2 separate regions of the Homo sapiens genome follow, and region 1 is linked to region 2. The links come from fine-mapping of genetic effects on gene expression. A gene starts in region 2. The other region holds a variant in brackets. All regions are shown on one strand. Distances are between the middles of the regions. Region 1 overlaps SYBU (syntabulin). Region 2 holds the start of EBAG9 (estrogen receptor binding site associated antigen 9).

Region 1 (2,500 bases), 33 kb after region 2:
AATTTCCTATTCTCCTTAATTGTAAAACTTAATAAAACAAAAAAATTCAGCAGCACATATTTCACTTTCTCGCTTCCATTCACTCTTCAACCTGCTCCAATTGGCCTCCCATCCCCATTTCTCCAAGGAATGATGTTGACACAGTCATTAAGACCTTGCTGTCAAAGCCGGTGAATATGTAACTATTCTCATATTAATCTCTTGGTGGGACTTCAACACAATTGACTGCTCCATTCTTCTTGAATTACTCTCTTCTCTTGGTTTTTATACTACTAATCACCTAGTTTTGCTCCTACATTTTGGGCTGTCATTTCTCTGGCTGTTTTGTTGGTTCTTCATCCTCCACCTCTATCTAAATATAGAAGTACCTCAGAAATCCATTTTTGACCTTTTTTCCTTCTCTACACTCTTCCTGGATGACCTCACTTGTTCCCATGGTTTTAATTACCACACAAATGCCAGAAAGGTTCAATGTTATAAGTCTAGTCCTGACAGCTCCCTTGATTTTCACATTTATATATGCAGTTACTCTTGATATCTTCACATAGATGTTTTAATAGACATCTCAGTTTTATTTTTCCCAAACTTGTTTCTCTTGAACTCTTCCCATTCTGAGCAAATATGGCCGCCATTGATCCAATTGCTCAAGCCAAAAACCTGAGTCACCCTTATTTTTTTTCTTTTCCTTACTCCACATTTAATCCATCAGCAAATCACATTAGTTCTATCTTCAAGCTATATCTGTAATTTTTCAACTTAAACTCTGTATCTACTTCCACCTCCAAATTGGCATCATCTCTCATCTGGACATTACAATAGACCCCTAAATGGCGTTCTTGAATAAACTGAAACCTCTACCATGGTTTGTGTGGCCCCATATGAAGCAGCTTCTTGTCTACTCCAACTTTCTCCTTCCTTCTCACTCTGCTCCAGCCACACTGACCTCCAGGATGCTCCTGTCACACTCTGAGTCCTTTCTGTCTGACGGCCTTTGCATTTGTTCCTCTTGCAACAAGATTTTGTCCCATATTTTTGCATGATTGACTCTTTTTCATCCATTCCCACCAATGTTATTTCTTCAGAGATGTGTTCCTTACTTTCACCTCTGCCACACTTGGTCAAAATACCTTATTTCCTTTGAGGCATTTACCACTATCTGAAACCATCTTTTGTTTATTTGATGGCATGTTGTGTCCCTCACAGACACAGAACATAAGCTTCCTGAGGACAGAAACCTTTTCTGTCTCCTTCACTTTTTAAGACCCATCCTGGAAAGTGCCCAGTTAGCATCGGAGTACCTGGTAA[A/G]TATTTGCTGGATTAATTAATTCATTCAACAGCAATTTTTAGACTTCCCACTATGTGCCAGGTGCTGTACTAAGTTATTGTTAAATTTTAATTTATTTGTAGAAAATTAAAATATTTTAAAAATATTTTGTGGGTACCCAGTAGGTGTCTATATAGGGCTCATGAGCTATTTTGGTACAGGCATGCAATGTGTATGCAATAGTCACATCATGGAAGATGGGGTATCCATCCCCTCAAGCATCCTTTGTGTTGAAACGATCCAATTATATTATTTTAATTATTTTAATATATGCAATTAAATTATTATTGATTATAGGTTCCCTGTTGTGCTATCAAATTCTAAGTCTTATTCTTTCATTTGTTCTAGGTTCTTGACATACAGCTGTGAACAAAACAGAACAAAGATCCCTGCCCTCATGGAGCTAATATCTCAGTGGGAAAGATGGGTAATAACCAAGGCATTGTAAGTAAAAGGGTGGTATATTTAAAGGTGTTAAGTGCTATGGAAGAAGAGTTTCTGGATGAGAACTTGGGGTATTATCCAGCCTCTTTATCCTCCCTTTGTGTGGCAAAGTAGAAAAGGCATTTGCTTTTGCAAACACTTGAAATCGTGGCTTCTGGAGATGAGCTCTGAGATCCTGAACATTTTTCCTCTTTGAGGCTTAGTTCCCTCAAAGATATGTGTAAAATACTAATCTCAAAATTTTGGTGTAAGCACTAGATGAACATAGATCAAATACCTTCTCATCCCTTCCCAGCCACCCACCCTCATCCTATCATTCTGGGGAAGGAAGCTATATGGCACTACCATATTCTCCCTCTCCTGAACACCTAGCATGCTTAGATCAACCCAATGTTCCTGAAAACACTCAAGATGTACTTACTGCATAAACATATGGACAAAATAGTGTATGGGCAATTTAAAAGTAAACAAATCTACTTTTATTCAGAAATGATGCTTTTTAAGTAAGGGTAGGAAATCTTCATTTTCTTTAATAACTAACTCTTTTTCCCTCTTCCTAATTTAATTCAATTTTTACAGACCCCCTATTGATAAAGATGTAAGATCTGCTATTCATTGTCTTTCTTATACATAGAAGTAAAATCACAGAAATAATTATTATTTTATGGGAGGATAAAACATTTATTTAAATGGAAACACTAATCTTTATTTTCATCATGCTGAAGTGTGTGG
Region 2 (3,030 bases):
GGCCATTTTACTGATGAGGAAATTGAGGTGAACAGATTAAATAATTTTACCCAACTTTACACAGAACCATTCCAGAGCACGAGCCATAAACACATCTTTCCCGTCTTGGAAATTAAATTATTAATAAAAAACGTGGTGCAAATTGGAAAGAGGACGGTTGTGGTAGATTATCACAAAGTTAAGTGGGTAGGTGGTTGCTGGGTCAGGGTGGGAGAACAAAGGCAGCTGTAATAAAAAAAAAAATTAAAGGCATATAAAGAAAAAGGCTTGTTGAGAACAATTTGCATAAACTGATTTTGGCCTTAGACCCTATTCACTTCTCCCTCACCAGTCACTTTGCAACTGTGGAGCATAGTATTCTGAGGGTCCCCTGCACATAACAACCCCTTTCATAGCATACAAGATAAAAAGAAGAATCAGGCTGCAAAGAGAGAAGCACTGAAGGAAAGAACATCTCAGGTTGAAAGAAGGGCAAGTCCAGGGTGCATGTGAGGAACAAATGCATGGACACGGTGAAGTGCCACTTCTTCATTTCTAGTTCAACACAATTCAATTAAAAATTACTGGGAGGAGGCTACGTCTTGAATTAAACTCAGCATTCCACATCTTTGAGGTGGCGGAATGACTGAGGGGAGGGGGTCTGTCTAGCCACATCCAAATCTTCCTGAGACAGAGGGAGATCCCTCATTTGTTGCAGTGTATTTTCCTTGGTCGCATCTGACACAGGGGTTCTGTGGGTTGAACAGAAAGGGACTTTGCTGGAGGGGAGGCACTCTGCATAGAAGGAAAGTAGGGACATCTGGCAGAAGCAGGCGCTCCGAGAATAAACAGTCAAAGCAGCTCGCAATAGTCCCAAAAAGCTACCCCTCACCGAACCTGGCGTGCCTGTCGCCGCTTGCCCCGCTCCCAGGGCTCATTGGCTCCCAGTCTCGACGTCAGACCCGTAGCCTCTCACCTATTGGGCCAGCCAGGACCTGAGGCGGAGTGCAGAAGCGAGGGCCTGGAGACAGCCGAGAGCCGCCTTCAAGGAGGGCTGGGGGCGGGGCTAGAGGAGGGGCTGGGGGCGGGTTTCCCGATGAAGGGGCGGCCATGGCAGCTGCGCAGAGGCAACGCAGGCTGCTACGGAGCGCGCGCCCGGCTTTGAATGAGCGGGGCTGGGAGTGAGCGGGCGGAGCGCGAGCTCGAGGAAGAGACAGGCAGCGCGCGTGAGCGCGCCTTGTGTGCGCGCGCGGCCCGCGGCAGCTCGGAGCCTCCGCCGGGCGGGCGGGGAGGGGGAGGGGCAGGTGAGTGTGTGCGGTTCGCGCGTGCCTGGGAGGGGCTTTCCTCTCCCTACCCCCATCCCGACCCCAGCCCTAGCCTCTGGGGCATTGTCTGCCCTTCGCCGTCGGCCCTCCGCCTAGCCGCGCACTTCCCGCCCTCCCACCTTCCTTTCGCCCTTCCACCAGACCTCCCTCGACGCCCGACAGCTGCTCTGGGTACTGTTTCCGGGTCAGGGTGACCTCTGGGGTGAGGAAACTGCGACTGGGAGCGGGACCCAGGCGTGCAGCATTCGCCATGCTCCGCTCACGCGTGGGAGACTGGGCTGTGGGGTACCGGCCCGGAAAGCACGCAGCCTCCAAAGCCGCCTTCCTCAGGGAAATTTGCGTGACCTTACTGCCCTCCGTCTACAGGCCTTGTACCTCTCCAGGCCGATTTTTCCACAATTTAAATCTCAGTTCACCTGGTATCCAGCTCCAGCAACTTAGAGCGTTTCACGTCACGCCGGGCGCCAGGCGTCGGCTTGTATAACCTGAAAACGCTCCTGTTTTTCTCATCTGTGCAGTGGGTATGATTTTTTTTTCATCAACAAATTTCACGTGGGTAATCTGAAATGAAACCACTTAAGTTATGAAACTCTTTCCTTTTGAGTTATTCTGGAGACCTTACTCCGCCTTCGGAACCGCCCCAGTGGTGTCACATACTTGAGGGCCTGACTCTCGGTTGCCAGACATGGCACAGAATGTTCGATTTTACTACCAGCTCTCACACTCCGCTTCTGTTTCCCCTTCTCTTACGGGCCGCTGCTCAAACCTTTATTTATCAAATTTAAGTGAGTTCAGGTAAATTTTATTTTGGGAGCTTTGTAATATTTTCTAACCCACTTCAGAGAGTTATAGTTTGAGGATATTCTGGACTGTACTAGATCATATGGTTTTCAAATTTTGGTATGAAAAGATTCGTAAATAGAGTTTTAGAAATACAGCACCTGTTTAGTATGTACCGAACATAGATTTTGGCTTTGCTTGTTTTGTGAATTGTGATGTATTGAGGCTACTTGAAAGGACCTCTAGCAGTTTACCGAGAATTTCAACAAGAAAAGATATAATACATTTGATCTATCAGTTTCTAATGTAGCATTCTTTTTTTAATTGTATTTTTTTTCCGTTAACATGGCAGAGCTCTCATTCTTGATTTCCTAGAGTTGTCATTTCTTCAAAAAGCCTTAATGAGGATACATTGCCTCATAGTTTTGAATCTCATTCTGATATACCTCAAATTTTTGTCTTTGTAATTTTTAAGGAAATTTAATGTTAAGATTAGATTATATTAACATTGTTCCGTTCTAGAAAGTGTTTTAAAGCAACTAAAGTGTAAAGTAGCGTAAGATACTTATCAAATTGGTGATCTAGAGGGCATTTCAAAAATCGCACTGAGGCAATGTGCACACAATTAAAAGGTTTCTTAAGTAGGATATGATGTAGGGAGAGCCTTGGGCTTTCGGGTCAGTCCCTTTAAATCCTGGGTAAGTGAATCTAAGTCTGTCAACCTCATCTATTAAACGGGAGTAGTGAAAAACCTACCTCTTTTGGTTGTCCTTAGGATTCCAGTGAGGTGATCGAACATTGTCTTGAGCGTTCAAGTGCTCAAGGAATGTTAGTTTCCTTCCATTCAACAAATATTTGAGTACCTACTATGTGCCCGGCTTTGACTGAGACCTATAAATACCAGAATGAGCAAGACTGATGGACGTCCTGCCTCCTTAGTTTCTTG

What was found.
Region 1: its variant is fine-mapped to the expression of EBAG9 in whole blood (TOPMed, PIP 0.98).

Annotation. Positions count from the first base shown.
Region 1 is chr8:109,571,754-109,574,253 of GRCh38, forward strand. It overlaps SYBU (syntabulin), which reads right to left. Exons shown (of 7, transcript NM_001099754.2): 7 at 2,225-2,500. Among named protein-coding and RNA genes, the nearest start is that of EBAG9, 33 kb to the left of the region's middle. The variant A/G (reference allele first, on the strand shown) is at 1,306.
Region 2 is chr8:109,538,637-109,541,666 of GRCh38, forward strand. EBAG9 (estrogen receptor binding site associated antigen 9) reads left to right here and starts at 1,537. Exons shown (of 7, transcript NM_004215.5): 1 at 1,537-1,825. EBAG9UORF reads left to right here and starts at 1,090. Exons shown (of 1, transcript NM_001436381.1): 1 at 1,090-1,164. The coding sequence starts at 1,090. The coding sequence ends at 1,164. RefSeq lists a silencer at 936-1,485 and an enhancer at 1,546-1,905.